Linked DNA regions of Homo sapiens: region 2 is linked to region 1. Evidence: fine-mapped expression QTL. Tissue or cell type: whole blood. Region 1 holds a variant in brackets; the other region holds the start of a gene. All regions are shown on one strand. Distances are from middle to middle.

What was found. PIP is the estimated chance that this variant, and not a neighbour inherited with it, causes the effect.
Region 2: WDR59 starts here. The variant in region 1 is fine-mapped to the expression of WDR59 in whole blood (TOPMed, PIP 0.99).

Annotation. Positions count from the first base shown.
Region 1 is chr16:75,116,377-75,124,478 of GRCh38, forward strand. It overlaps LDHD (lactate dehydrogenase D), which reads right to left and starts at 404. Exons shown (of 11, transcript NM_194436.3): 1 at 273-404. The coding sequence starts at 344. It also overlaps a transcript of ZFP1 not described here. The variant G/A (reference allele first, on the strand shown) is at 4,992.
Region 2 is chr16:74,980,349-74,988,450 of GRCh38, forward strand. It overlaps WDR59 (WD repeat domain 59), which reads right to left and starts at 4,775. Exons shown (of 26, transcript NM_030581.4): 1 at 4,616-4,775. The coding sequence starts at 4,669. RefSeq lists silencers at 4,521-4,830, 5,866-6,066 and an enhancer at 5,161-5,220.

The DNA.
Region 1 (8,102 bases):
CCCTTTCCTTCAGGGCCTTCTTCCACAGGTGTGTTTTATTCCAGGGGCATCCATTTGACTCCCCCAGCCCCACTCATGGTAGCAGTGGGGACTCAGCTGATCTCACTCTACACCCACCCACAGTTGCCACAGGGTAAGCCCAGTGCCCTTTTGCCCAAGGTCAGGTCACTTGGTGCTGGGGCGTCACAGAGCCCAGGAAACTTGGGATCAGAACCCCCTGCTCCCCGCTCCCCACCTCATCCCTCCAGAGGACTTCTCTTCTCTCCCGGTACCTTTGCCTTCTGGGAGCAGTAGCCCCTCCAGGGGAACAGCTCCCAGGTTGCAGACCTGAGCAGTCGGGCCATAGCCAGGCACTGGCCAGAGGGTGTGAGCACTGGGTGGCAGGGTGACCAGTCAGCTACTGTGGCAGCAGCTACTGCTGCTGTCAGCCCATTGGCTAGGCCAGGGGTGGGGCCTGCTTAAGGTGGCACGGGCTTTAAGGTGGCCCTTGCAGATCTTGCAGACATTTTCGTGGGCTCCAGGGACGACACTTCTAAAGGAGAGGCGAGGTTCACTGGACGTTTTGGGAAACTGTAAGGCAAAAATAAAATTCTAAGCCTCCCAACCGACTGAATGGACCTCCCTCTCAGCCCAGGGCATTCCAAAATAAACCTGAAAAATTAATTCAGGCTGTGATGGGAAGAGGTTTAGGACAAGCCTCATTATCCCCCTCCTTCCTTTAGAATTCAGACACAACTGACCAGCATTAACATTAAAACAGAGACCTTAAGGCATTCTGATCTTAAGACACAAAACAGACTCTTTGTAGCAATAAGATACCAAATTCCAACCTGACTCTAGCATCACCTGACAGATAGCAGGCCCTGAAAGAAATCAATGTATTTTACCCCCAAAATATATTCCTCTGATTTTTTTTTTAAATAGCTCCAAAAAGCTGTCTTTTGTGGGGAAAATCTAGAATCTGTAGAGAATCCCCTCCCCTTTCCAGGTTTTTTGTTTTGTTTTGTTTTGTTTTGAGACAGAGTCACTCTGTGGCCCAGGCTGGAGTGCAGTAGCGTGCTGCAACCTCCACCCACTGGGTTCAAGCGATTCTCCTGCCTCAGCCTCCCAAGTAGCTGGGATTACAGGTGCCTGCCACTGTGCCCAGATAATTTTTCTATTTTTAGTAGAGACAGGGTTTCACCATCTTGGCCAGGCTGGTCTTGAACTCCTGACCTCGTGATCCACCTGCCTTGGCCTCCCAAAGTGCTGGGATTACAGGCATGAGCCACCGCGTCCAGCCTCTTTCCAGGTTTTATCCTGATCTAAGGGAGATTTAACTAAGAGTCTGGCACCTTTTAACGCCTTAGACATTTACCATCTATGTTACATAATAAGAACCTTGGGCCGGGTGCAGCGGCTCACATCTGTAATGCCAGCACTTTGGGAGGCCAAAGTGGGAGGATCACGAGGTCAAGAGATAGAGACCCTCTTGGCCAACATGGTGAAACCCCGTTTCTACTAAAAATACAAAAATTAGCTGGGCATGGTGGTACACGCCTGTAGTCTCAGCTACTTGGGAGGCTGAGGCAGGAGAATCGCTTGAACCCAGGAGGTGGAGGTTGCAGTGAGCTGAGATCGCACCACGGCACTCCAGCCTGGCGACAGAGCGAGACTCTGTCTCAAAAAAAAAGAACCTTGGTCTCCACAACTCCTTATCTTAACCCAGATGCTTATTTCTATTGATTCCAGGTTGTCTTTTTTAAAATTTTTTATTTAAAAAAAATTTTGTTGTTGTATACCAAGATTCCAAGTCTTTGGATAATAACTTCTTTCAACCAATTGAAAATCAGAAATTTTTTTTTTTTTTTGAGATGGAGTCTCACTCTGTTGCTCAGGCAGTGGCGTGATCTCAGCTCACTACAACCTCCATCTCCTGGGTTCAAGCTGTTCTCATGCCTCAGCCTCCCAAGTAGCTGGGATTACAGGAGTGCCACCATGCCCAGCTAATTTTTGTATTTTTAATAGAGACAGGGTTTCACCATGTTGGTCCAGGCTGGTCTCGAACTCCTGACCTCAAGTGATCCACCCGCCTTGGCTCCCCAAAATGCTGGGATTACAAGTGTGAGCCACCGTGCCCAGCGCCAATCAGAAAAGTCTTTGAATTCACCTATGACCTGTAAGCTCCTCCCTCAATCAGAAGGAACCAATGCATACCCTGCTTATATTGATTACTGTCTGATGCCTCCCTAAACTGTATAAAACCAGTTGTAACTCAACTGCCTTGGGTACATGTTCTCAGGACCTCCAGGGAATGTGTCACAGGTCATGGTCTTCATGTGAGTGGTGGGAAATCCATACAGGTCTACATAAAACTCAATGCTTGCCTCATCAGAAGAAAGAATTCTACTGAAGAGGTCTGAAAGGGAAATATCTTGAGCCCCCAAAATTACTAAGCTAAAGGGAAAAGTCAAGCTGGGAACTGCTTAAGGCAAACCTGCCTCCCATTCTTTCAAAGTCACCCCTCTGATCACTGAGCTAAATGCATATCTGATTGCCTCCTTTTGAGAGGATAATTAGAAACTCAAAAGAATGCAAACATTTGTCTCTTATCTACCTATGACCGGGAAGCCCCCTCCCTGTCTTTCCAGACCCAAACAATGTTCATCTTACGTATGTTGAGTGACGTCTCAAGTCTCCCCAAAATGTATAAAACTAAATTGTGCTCTGACCACCTTGGGGACATGTCATTGGGATCTCCTGAGGCTGTGTCACACCATCATCATTGGCAAAATAAACTTTCTAAATTAACTGAGACCTTTCTCAGATTTGGGGGGTTCATATTTTGGTAACCACAGAAGAATTCTGACTGGAGGCGCCCCTGACCTTTGACAAAGCTATCAGTGCTTGGTACCAGCTTGAGCTATCTTTATGGCTCAAACCAATAGGACAATTTGCTGAGGCCCGGAAGCACACCCTCCAGAGAATACCTTATCTTTCAAAATCTGGTCAAGATCTAAAGTTCATTTTGTTGTACAACTCCTCTTTTTTTTTTGGAGTTTTACTTGCTTCTAACACAAGGAAGGCAAATTTTTCCTGCTTCCATGTTGATGGAAGGCAGGTAACTCCTTTATGGTGTTTGAGCTCGCAACCAACAGGGAAGATGAGGGTTTTTCCCTGCTTCTAGGATGGTAGAGAGCAGTCTTCAGCCTGAAACCCATCCCTAGGTAAGTAACTGAATTGGGGTTTGTTTTGGCTAAAGTTAAGATTACAACCAGCTGGTCTTAATTTCTCCTTACCACTAGAAAGCTTAGTAATCATATAAATTGTGTGATCATTTGTTTTGCTTAACTGTTTTGTTGTTGTTCATTTCTCTTTTTGTTGTTCTTTCAGTCTTTTTCCCATTGGGTTTGATCAACTCTATCTGACTTGATCAAATACAAAGGAAGTCCCAAATTATGGGGAACAAGGCCTCTGAAGTGGCTAAATTCACACACACACACATACACAAAGGATGATGTGATAGGGGGTGAAAAACAGCCAGCAAAAGGAAAAAAAAAAGGAAAGATTTTTTATTTTGACTACTAAGTGGCTTTAGTTACACAACGAGGCCACCTTTTTGCTAGCCAGGCCAAACTGAAAGAGCAATGGCTGTGCTTCTGAAATAGCAGCAATTTGTCCTAGCTGAAATATGGTAATGAGATTTTAAAAGATTTTTTTAAAGGAGCTCAATGATTAAAAGTCAGCTTAATTAAAAGCTAACATCGAAGATGTGCATGTGTATGTGTGGTGTGTGTGTGTGTGCGCATGTGCGTGTGTGTGTTTGTATTTAAAAGGACTTCATGTTTTTGTTTTTGTTTTTCTCCAAGAATCTTGTCTTTTTTTGAGCGAAAGTTTTTTTCTTCTCAGTTGACTGAATTCTGTTTTCTTCATTTACTTCGGCTGTATCTCCTTTCTCTTGCACCCTCTGCTGCATGAGGGACCTAAAATAGTTTATAATAGCTGGGGTTCCTTAAAGAGAACAGAGAAGGCACCAGGCTCCCTTTAAGGGAGAAACCTGTTTTTTCTTATGCAATCCCCAGAGTGTAAACAGGCAAGTTCGTCTCGTCTCTTCAACTGCTTACTTTTGTATTGTTGTTACCTGTTTGTGGTTTTTTTTTGGGTTTTTTTTTGTTTTTTTTTTTGACTAAAATAGTTATTGCAACAGAGGTTACCCTTGGGTTTTTTTGTTTTTTGTTTTTTGTATTGTTTGTTTGTTTGTTTTGAGTCTGAGTTTCACTCTGTCGCCCAGGCTGGAGTGCAGTGGCGCAATCTCGGCTCACTGCAAGCTCCGCCTCCCGGGTTCACGCCATTCTCCTGCCTCAGCCTCCCAAGTAGCTGGGACTACAAGCGCCACCATGCCCAGCTTGTTTTTTGTTTGTTTGTTTGTTTGTTTGTTTGTTTTGTATTTTTAGTAGAGACGGGTTTCACCGTGTTAGCCAGGATGGTCTCGATCTCCTGACCTCATGATCCGCCCGCCTCAGCCTCCCAAAGTGCTGGGATTACAGGCATAAGCCACTGCACCCAGCCTACCCTTGGGTTTTTAAGGAAGACTATGGTTTAGACACTTAGAAATGTCTTTGTTTAAAAGAAGTTTTTTAAAAAGTGCACTGTAAAAGCATCACGTGTTCTAACCTCATAATAAGTGTCCCTTCTTGGAGACCCAGGATTCAGTGTGGGCTCTGCCCAGAGCTCAGAGATCCACTTAAAAGGTAGTCCCTTTATCTAAATAAAACTAGTCTCCTTATACAATCCTATGATAAATTTCTTTTTTGTTTTTTTTTTTTTGAGACAGAGTCTCGCTGTCACCCAGGTTGGAGTACAGTGGGGTGATCTCTGTACTCCAGAGAGTACAGACATAACTGGGACTACAGGCGCCCACCACCACGCCCAGCTAATTTTTTGTATTTTTAATAGAGACGGGGTTTCGCCGTGTTAGCCAGGATGGTTTCGATCTCCTGACCTTGTGATCC[G/A]CCCACCTCGGCCCCCCAAAGTGTTGGGATTACAGGAATGAACCACCACACCCGGCAAATTTCTTTAATTTTATGTTTGATTTGGCATTCATCTTTCATCTCCCTCTGGCACCATCAGACTTTTTCTCTCTGTACCTTATGATGTAAATTTTGCTATTTGATTTTCACCTGAGTTGTTTCCTTTAATATGCAAACATAAGGCTAGTTAGCTGACAACTGCCTAGGGTTGTGAAGCAGGTTATCAATAATCTGAGTGTATCCATAAGATGTACTTCTATCAGCATGCCTAATACGTCTATGTATTTATGTGTTGTGTACACAATGCTTCACTACTGAAAATGCTTAAAAGAGCTCTAATTAACTGGCTTAAGAAAATAAAAGTGCTCGAATGAAATGCTTTATCAGGAAAAAAGACTCGTCAAATATTTTTTCAAGTTTATGTAACTCAGTAAAATTATTAATAAATAAGCTAGCCTTAAAATTACTGGTAAAGTAATATTAGAAATGTCTGAAGAATTGCCAGCATACATTTTTGTTTGCATATTAATCCAGCAGTTTCATACTTATCCCTGCCAAATACTATAAGGTGTCAAAATTTCTCATAGGGGTTACAAAACTGTATACCCAGCCCAAAACAGAATGATCTTTGCTTGTGTAAGCTTGTTAGAAATGCAAAATGCTTATTCCCCAGTGCCACAAAGAAATAGCACTCAAACATAAATTTAGTTTTCTCAGCAAGGCAATTTTCACTTTCTGCAGAAAAGGTGCCCCTCGCAGATGAAACAATGGTGAGAGCACACTTGGACAGGGGAGGGGCAGGAGTTCTTATTCCTCATGCAGGTAGCCCCTACTGCTGTGTCGTTCCCCTATTGGATAGGGTTGGACCGCACAGTCTAAGCTAATTCCAATTGACTATTTTAAAAAGAGCAGGAGTACCAGCCGGAGTGGCAGGGTGAGTAGTTTAGCAGTAAGGGCGGTTACAGAACAGTTGGCTCAGGATGAATCAGGACAGAGTAGGTGACCAAGAGTGACTCAGGTCAAAGCAGGTGACCAGGGGAACAGCTGTGAACTACTGATTAGGACTGGCGGGAAAGTTGTTTACTGAAACTAGAAGCTAGGGGGCAAAGAGAACCAGGAAGCTAAACTTTAAAATGGAGAATCAAAGAATAAGAGAGCTGAACATACTGACATACTGATTCTTTGAAGAGAAACTTGGAGTTCACTATATTTAACAAATCTTTAATAAATAAGACATTAATATTGGTTTAATAAAAATAGCTACATCTTAAATTTAGTAAGATTACCATAACTTCTCATCTTGTGGCTTTAGGCAGTCCGGTCTATAGGCAATAGTGTTTGTTTTGGAAAAGCACTGTTATCATCTTTGTTTCAAAGCTAAATTATAAGTTCCTCCCAAAGTTAGTTTGGCCTATGCCCAGGAATGAACAAGAACAGCTTGGAGGTTAGAAGCAAGATGGAGTCACTTAGGTGCAATCTTTTTCACTGTCTCAGTGATAATTTTGCAATGGCAGTTCCATAATTTTAAATAATGACAAGCACAGTTTTTATAAATAATCTAGGTAAGTAATTAAAATAAAATAAGTAAATATTATAGGATAAATATAGACAAACTCATAATTTTGAATCTAAAGTTAAATAATAGAGATTTTATTATTTGGGTATTTTCCAATAAAAATATATTTGGGCCAAGTGCAGTGGCTCACACCTGTAATCCCAGCACTTGGGGAGGACAAGGCGAGTGGATCACGTGAGGTCAGAAGTTTGAGACCAGCCTGGCCAACATGGTGAAACCTCATCTCTATTAAAAATGCAAAAATTAGCTGGGCACAGTGGTGCATGCCTGTAGTCCCAGCTACTCAGGAGGCTGAGGCAGGAGAATCACTTGAACCCAGGAGGTGGAGGTTGCAGTGAACCAAGATCATGCCACTGCACTCCAGCCTGGGCGACACAGAGACTCTGTCTAAAATATATATATGTGTATATATATATATATGTGTATATATATTTGTGGAATGTTTTCCTACAAATATATATATAAGAATGTGTGTGTGTGTGTGTGTGTATATGTATATATATATATATATATATATATATATATATATATATATATATGTAGGAAAACATTCTTTTTTTTTGGAGAAAGAGTCTTCCTCTGTCACCCAGGCTGGAGTGCAGTGGTGCAGGGTTCAAGCAATTCTCCTGCCTCAGCCTCCCAAGTAGCTGGGACTACAGATGCATGCCACCATGTCTGGCTAATTTTTTGTATTTTAGTAGAGACAGAGTTTCACTATGTTGCCCAGGCTGGTCTCGAACTCCTGAGCTCAGGCAATCTGTCCACCTCAGCCTCCCAAAGTGCTGGGATTACAGGTGTGAGCCACCACACAGGCCAAAAACATTCTTTCTTAAAAAAAGTTGTGTCCCAGCCAGGTGTGGTGGCTCACACCTGTAATCCCAGCACTTTAGGAGGCCAAGGAGGATGCATCACAAGGTCAGGAAATCAAGACCATTCTGGCCGACACGGTGAAACCCTGTCTCTACTAAAAATACAAAAAAAAATTAGCTGGGCCTGATAGCACGCACCTGTAGTCCCAACTACTCGGGAGGCAGAGGGAGGAGAATCACTTGAACCCAGGAAGCAGAGGTTGCAGTAAGCCAAGATTGCGCCTCTGCACTCCAGCCTGGGTGACAAAGTGAGACTCCATCTCAAAAAAAGTAAAATACAAATAAAAAATAAGTGTGTCCTTTTGAAAAAGGTGAACAATTTTTGTCTAATTGAAAGTTTTTTTTTTTTGAGACAAGAGTCTTGCTCTGTTGCCCAGGCTGGAGTGCAGTGGTACAAAGCTCACTGCAACCTCTGCCTTCCAGGTTCAAGCGATTCTCCTGCCTCAGCCTCCCAAGTAGCTGGGATTACAGGCACCCACCACCACTCCTGGCTAATTCTGATATTTTTTAGTAGAGACAGGGTTTTGCCATGTTAGCCAGGCTGGTCTTGGACTCCTGACCTCAGGTGATCTGCCCTCCTCAGCCTCTTAAAGTGCTGGGATTACAGGCGTGAGCCACCACGCCCGGCTTCAAAGCTAATTTAAAGGT
Region 2 (8,102 bases), 140 kb before region 1:
TCTAAGTCTTTTTTTTTTTTTTTTTTGAGACAGAGTTTCGCTCTTGCCCAGGCTGTAGTGCAACGGTGCGATTTGGCTCGCTGCAACCTCCGCCTCCCAGGTTCAAGTGACTCTCCTGCCTCAGCCTCCCGAGTAGGTGGAATTACAGGCACACGCCACCATGCCTGGCTAATTTTTGTATTTTTAGTAGAGATGGGGTTTCACCATGTTGGCCAGGCTGGTCTCAAACTCCTGACCTCAGGTGATCTACCTGCCTTGGCCTCCTAAAGTGCTAGGATTACAGGCGTTAGCCTACGCCCAGCCAAAAAATCTAAAAGTTTTAATTTTAAAAAATTATTTTCAGACCAGGTGCAATGGCTCACATCTGTAATCCAGCGCTTTGGGAGGCTGAGGCAGGCATATCACTTCAGGTAAGGAGTTCAAGACCAGCCTGGCCAACATGACGAAACCCCATCTCTACTAAAATACAAAAATTAGCCCGGTGTGGTGGGGCACGCCTGTAATCCCAGCTACTCAGGAGGCAGGAGAAGCACTTGAACCCAGGAGGTGGAGGTGACAGCGAGCTGAGATTGCGCCACTGCACTCCAGCCTGGGCAACAGAGCGAGACTCCATCTCAAAAATAAAAAAATATATATTTTTAGGCCAAGGTGGGAGGATCACTTCAGCTCAGGAGTTCAAGACCAGCCTGAACAAGAACGTAAAGCCCCATCTCTGCAAAAAAAAACACACAAAAAGGCCGGGTGCGGTGGCTCACGCCTGTAATCCCAGCACTTTGGGAGGCTGAGGCGGGCGGATCACAAGGTCAGGAGATCGAGACCATCCTGGCTAACACGGTGAAACCCTGTCTCTACTAAAAAAAATATATATATACAAAAAATTAGCCAGGCGTGGTGGTGGGCGCCTGTAGTCCCAGCTACTTGGGAGGTTGAGGCAGGAGAATGCCGTGAACCTGGGAGGCAGAGTTTGCAGTGAGCAGAGATCATGCCACTGCACTCCAGCCTGGGCGACAGAGAGAGACTCTGTCTCAAAAAAAAAACAAAAAAAACACACACACACAAAATTGTGGGGCTTGGTGGTGTGCACCTGTATTCACAGCTACTCAGGAGACTGAGGTGGGAAGATCACTTGATACCATAAGGTTGAGGCTGAGGTGAGCCAAGATTGCACCACTGCATTCCAGCCTGGGTGACAGAGCAAGACCCTGTCTTACACATATATACATATATATTTTTTGTATTTTTTTAGACAATACATATACATTTACATATATATATATATATATATATATATATATATATATATATATATATATTTTTTTTTTTTTTAGATGGAGTCTCACTCTGTCGCCCAGGCTGGAGTACAGTGGTGAGATCTTGGCTCACTGCAACCTCTGCCTCCCAGGTTCAAGCTATTCTCCTGCCTTAGCCTCCCAAGTAGCTGGGATTACAGGTGCATGCCACTATGGTCGGCTAATTTTTGTATCTTTAGTAGAGATAGGGTTTCACCATGTTGGCCAGGCTGGTCTCAAACTCCTGACCTCAGGTGATCCGCCTACCTCGGCCTCCCAAAGTGGTGGGATTACAGGCGTGAGCCACCACGCCTGGCCATATATGTATATTTTTTAGGCCAGGCACGGTGGCTCACGCCTGTAATCCCAGCACTTTGGGAAGCTGCAGCAGGAAAATCACTTGAACCTCGGAGTTCAAGACCACCTGGGCAAGATACAGAGACTCCTATCCCTATTTAAAAAAAAAATGCAAAATGAAAGAAATTTAAATATTTTAATTAAAAATTTTTTAATAAAATTATTATTTAAAAGATGTGGAGTGTTTTGAAAAGTTTATTGCTCCTATTCATAAAGGCATTATGAAGAGTTTTAACTTTGTCTTTCTACATTAACAAAATAGTTAATAAAATGGGTTCCTGCCCCTTCCAATCATCACCAGAATCACCCACAAAACCATGCTAATTCACATAAAGAGGAAGCCTTGTAAATAGGAAAATCAGAACAAAAAAACAGAAACTCCCACAAGGCAGTAAAATTACCCAATTTACTTTGTTCTCTTACTGTGACAACTGCTGTTGAGGTTTAATTATTTGCTACGACTTCATAGCATCCTAATATATGTGTCAGCACCCTCTCTGCAGGTCTCTTCAATTACATCTCTATAAACAGGCAGGGGTGAGACTACCTGGGTTTCTGTGAAAATTAAAGGGTTTGCAGATTAGTAGCTTCCAAATTAGCAGGCTTAGAGGCATGATACATGATTCTATTCTGTCCTAGTTGCCAGTAAAAGCAATTAACAAGAAAGAAAACAGGAATATGGTTCCTTTTCCAAGGAGTCTGGCGCCTCCCTAGGGAGAGCAGGTCTCACGGAGACTCTGTGCTGACAGTACTTGGGGGTCCTTAATCCAAATGCTACTGCTCAAATTCTCAGTAGAGGCTACTGATCAGAGGGCACCACAGAGCAAAATGGTGGGTAGCTCCTCCACTCACTCATTCTCCGGCAAAAGACAGGATGGGGTTTTGGAAAGAAGAAACCACATCACCCATTCATACTTATCCAGATCTCCCTCAGTATGAATCACCTGTGCATGGTATAGTGTATACCTGAAGGGAGCTCAGTAAATCCTTGTTGAATAAATGAGTGAATAAAAGTGTGGCACACAGAAGGTATTTGATAAATATTAGTTGAATAAATGAAAAGAATGGCCAGGCACAGTCGCTCACACCTGTAATCCCAATATTTTGGGAGGCCAAAGTGGGAGAATCGCCTGAGGCCAGGGGTTCAAGACCAGCCTGGGCAACACAAAGAGACTCTGTCTCTACAAAAAATAATAGGCCAGGTGTAGTGGCTCACACCTGTAATCCCAGCACTTTAGGAGGCCAAGGCAGATGGATCACTTGAGGCCAGGAGTTCAAGACCAGCCTGGCCAACAGAGCGAAACCCCGTCTCTACAAAAAATACAAAACTTAGCCAGGCATGGTGGCACGTGCCTGTAATCCCAGCTACTCGGGAGGCTGAGGCACAAGAATCGTTTGAACCTGGGAGGCAGAGGTTGCAGTGAACCAAGATCATGCCACTACACTACAGTCTGGGTCATAGAGTGAGACTCTGTCTCAAAAAAAAAGGTAAATAAATTTAAAATTGAAGAGAATCACCAAGACACTGTCCTAGGTGCTGGGGAAGAGGGGATGTATATGACCGGTTCAGAGCTACCCACTATGAGTAAAGTAGTCCAATGAGCTAAACAAGGGCTCTGGGGTAGGATCCAGCATCCAAATCCCAATGCTGTGTGTGCCACACATCCTCAACATACAACCACATAAAATCTTCACTCGAGGCTGTGCTCAGTGAATCACACCTGTAATCCCAACACTTTGGGACGCTGAGGCAGGGGGTTCGCTTGAGCCCAGGAGTTCCATACCAGCCTGGACAACATAGGGAGACCCCGTCTCTACAAAAAAAAATGAAAAATTTAGTCGGGCGTGTTGGCATGCGCCTGTAGTCTCAGCTACTGGGGAGGCTGAGGTGGGAGGATAGCTTGAGCCCAGGAGGTCGAAGCTGAACTGAGCGGTGATTCACGCCTCTGCACTCAAGCCTGGGTGACAGAGCCAGACCCTGTCTCAAATGAAGTAAAATAGGCCAGGCACGGTGGCCCACGCCTGTAATCCCAGCACTTTGGGAGGCTGAGGTGGGTGGATCACCTGAGGTCAGGAGTTCAAGACCAGCCTGACCAACAAGGTGAAACCCCGTCTCTACTAAAAATACAAAAATTAGCCGGGCGTGGTGGTGCGCACCTGTAATCCCAGCTACTTGGGAGGCTGAGGCAGGAGAATTGCTTGAATCCCGGAGGCGGAGGTTGCAGTGAGCCAAGATGGCACCACTGCACTCCAGCCTGGGCAACAGAGTGACTCTCCATCTCAAAAAAAATAAATTAAATTAAATTAAATAGAAAATTAAAAAATAAAATCTTTAAGCCAATCTTGTAAGTACGACCATCTCCCTTCTACAGGTGAGAAAACTGACGTGTACGGAGTGATGACAGGGTAGGGGCTGCGGGATTCGAACTCGGGCAACACGTGCAGTGTCACTCCTATCCACTACACGGTATTTTCCAGTATGATGGCATTAAGAACCACTTAACCGCGTAGACGCTGCAACAGGCACTTTGCAAACAGTGTTTCATCGAATTCACCCCAACAGGGTTACGTCCACGCAGCTGAGACTTAGAAAAGTCCCGCGACTTGCCTTAAGTCGCCACACGCGGCTAGGGCCTCGGGAAGCCGTCACGCCCTCGCTCCGTACCCTGATTGTGGGAAGCCTCCCCTCAGCACTCACGATGCGCAGTCTCTGCCTCAGTGTCACAAGGCGGACCCCACTCCCCTACCCGCGTAGGGAGCCCCGAAACTCCGTCCATGCTCGCCCCGATTGCCCCCGATGGTCGTCTTCCCTCCCCCGACGGGGCCTAAGAGGTCGGCTAAGCCCCGCCCACCTCCTCAGTACGGGGCCTAGGGTCTCCCCGTAGCCCCCCGGGACGGAAGCAGCCGCGTGGGGGAGGGGAAGCGGGGAGGACGCATGCCCAGAGGGCTCCACTCGGCCTCTAGCTCACCTGGGAGTCACGGAACTCTACAACCACGTTTTCGCTGCTCCATCGCGCCGCCATCTCCCCCGCCCGGCCGCCGCGGCCCCAGGACGGCGCCCTCCCACCCCGCCGTCCCCAGTATCCCGGGACCGTGCGCCCCACACAGCCAGAGAATCAGCCCCGACACGCCCCGTGCCCTGGTTGCTCCTGAGCTCAAGCCATTGGTTGACCCAAGCATAGGCTCCGCCCCTTCTTCCTGGGTCCTCCAATTGCTACACCGCGCCTGCAACAAACAGGCACGCCCTCGCTCACTTCCGTCACTTGGTTTGAGTCACCCACGCTCCTCGCGATTGCGGGCACACCCCCTGCCGCGAGCTCTGCCGGGAGTTGTAGTCCAAGCTCGAGCAAGCGTGGGTGACCTGGGAAGGGCTCGCAGGTTTGGGTTTGGGTGAGGTGAGGTGCCTGTTGTCCTGACTAGCTCCTCGCTGGAGTCCCCAGCATTCGTCCAGACCCAGTCTCAAATCAAAATCAACGTTCGGGGCGGGTGCGGTGACTCACGCCTGTAATCCTAGCGCTTTGGGAGGCCGAAGTCAGGAGTTCGAGACCAGCCTAAACAACATAGTGAAACCCCGTCTCTACTAAAAATACAAAAATTAGCCGGGTGGCGGGCGCCTGTAATCCCAGCTACTTGGGAGGCTGGGGCAGGAGAATCGCTTGAACCCGGGAGGCGGAGATTGCAGTGAGCCGAGATCACGCCATTATACTCCAGCCTGGGTGACAAGAGCGAGACTCCGTCTCGGAAAAAAAAAGAAAAAAGAAAAATCAAAGCTCGTGCAAACCGAAGATACCTCTTCTCCTGATGCCTATCCCATCGAGATATTTAAAAGTCTGAATGTGCAATTTATTGTTTCATACAATACAGCAGCGCCTCCCGTAACAATGAAGGTAGACTTAAATGTGAGAATCCAGCTGTTTTCTTGATCTGTAGTCCAATGCTCTACCTGTGAGCTATACCCCCTCCTGCAATCCAGCTGCTTTCTTTCCTTTTCTTTTTTTTTTTTTTTTTTTTTTTTTGAGACAGAGTCTTGCTCAGTCGCCCAGGCTGGAGTGCAGTGGCGCGATCTCGGCTCACTGCAAGATCCGCCTCCTGGCTTCACGCCATTCTCTTGACTCAGCCTCCGGAGTAGCTGGGACTACAGGCGCCCGCCACTACGCCCGGCTAATTTTTTTGTATTTTTAGTAGAGACGGGGTTTCACCGTTTTAGCCAGGATGGTCTCGATCTTCTGACCTCGTGATCTGCCCGTCTCGGCCTCCCAAAGTGCTGGGATTACAGGCGTGAGCCACCGCGCCCGGCCGCTGTTTTCTGATAAACCAAACATTAAAACAGATTTGCCAGAATTTTTTGTTGTTTTTTTTTTTTTTTGAAAATATTGTTCTTTTTCATTTTAAAATGTATTCATGTGAAGGGCCTTAATGTTTAAATGAAATAATGAATATATTTTTTAAATTCTGTATACTACATATAAAAGTTTTTGGGGGCCGGACGCAGTGGCTCATGCCTGTAATCCCAGCACTTTGGGAGGCTGACGTGGACGGATGGCTTGAGCCCAGAAGGAGGCTGCAGTAAGCTAGGATCACATTACTGTACTCCAGCCTGGGCGACAGAGCAAGACCTTGTCAAAAAAAAAAAAAAAGTTTTTTTGGGATTTTCAGTAATTTTTAACAGCAGTGTAAAGGGATTCCAAGATCAAAAAGTTTGAGAACCACTGTACTAACATGGTGGGTGGTGATTAAGTTTCCTTTTCAGTCCCACACTCTTAAATGTTGATTTAACTGGTTTAGCTTCAGTTTCCCTATAGAAGGGAAAAATGGCTTACCTCATTGGATTGTTGTAAGGAACTAAGCACAGGGCCTGGGATGTAGAAAAGCTCAACTATAAACTATTAATTCAGTTCTAGAAGCCAGGAAATCAATAAAAATAAAATAAAATAAACTGTTATTGTTGTTGTTAATATTATCACTATTTGTATGTGCAAGTCATTGTATGAATAGAGGTAAGAAAGTGTGGTCTCTTCCCTCCTGGAGTATTGGCTATAAGGGGGAAGACAGACTTGTTGACAGATTACGGTGACTAACTTGTTGCCTGGACCGTTTCATGTTTTATTTTTATTTTTTTGGAGAAAGGGTCTCGTTCTGTCACTGAGGCTGGAGTGCAGTGGTGTGAGCATAGCTCACCACAGCCTCCAACTCCTGGGCCCAAGCAATCCTCCTGCCTCAGCCTCCCAAGTAACTGGGACTACAGGCATGTGCTACTATGCCCAGCTATTTTTTTTTTTTTTTTTTTTTACTTTTTGTAGAGATGGTCTCGTTGTGTTGCCCAGGGTGGTTTCAAAGTAGTGGCTTCAAGCAAGTGATCCTCCGGCCTCAGCCTCTGGATTAGCTGGGACCATAGGTGTGAGCCACCATGCCTGATCCCTTTTCATATTCTAGCACTGCATCACCAAAAAGTCTTGCATCCCAAGAAACCCATAAGTTCCAGGCAAACTGGGACAACTGGTTACTCTACAACAGGAATGTGCTTGGCAGAATGACTTGTATATTATAATAGATTTGCAAGCAATATGGCAGGAGAGAAAAGCCTAAATAGGCGACCCGAAATGGCATCTTGAAATCTTGAAGAATATGACATCTGAGCTTTGTTTTGTTTTGTTTTGTTTTGTTTTGTTTTGTTTTGAGACGGAGTCTCCTTCTGTCGCCCAGGCTGGAGTGCAGTGGTGGGTGGATCACTGCAAGATCCGCCTCCCGGGTTCACGCCATTCTCCTGCCTCAGCTCCCAAGTAGCTGGGACTACAGGCGCACGCTGCCACATCCGGCTAATTTTTTGTATTTTTAGTAGAGATGGGGTTTTACCGTGTTAGCCAGGATGGTCTTGATCTCCTGACCTCGTGATCTGCCCACCTCGGCCTCCCAAAGTGCTGGGATTACAGGCGTGAGCCACTGCATCCGGCCCGACATCTGAGCTTTTCAGTATAATGTTAAGATATTGATACAGTACACTATGAAAAAAAAAAAAACACTTCACCATTAAGAGTGTGAGCAAAGGCTGGACGTGTTTGCTCACACCTGTTATTTGACAGAATCATTTAAGTCCAGGAGTTCGAGACCAGCCTGGACAACATGGCAAGACCCCATCTCTAAAAAAAAAAAAATTAAAATTAGCCAGGCGTGGTGGCATGCATCTGTAGTCCCAACTACATGGGAAGGTGAGGTGAGAGGACTGCTTGAGTCTGGGAGGTTGAGGCTGCAAAAAGCTATGATCGCGCCACTGTGCTCCAGCCTGGGTGACAGAACAAAACCCTGTCTCTAAAAAAAAATTAAAATTAAAGTCATTTCATTCCTGACTGGCTACCTCATCCATTATCTTCATGTTTCTCGAATTTGTGATACAAAGAACAACGTATAGCCAATCAGTAGCTTATGTTATTTTGAGGTAAATTCTTAGTAAAGACTTTA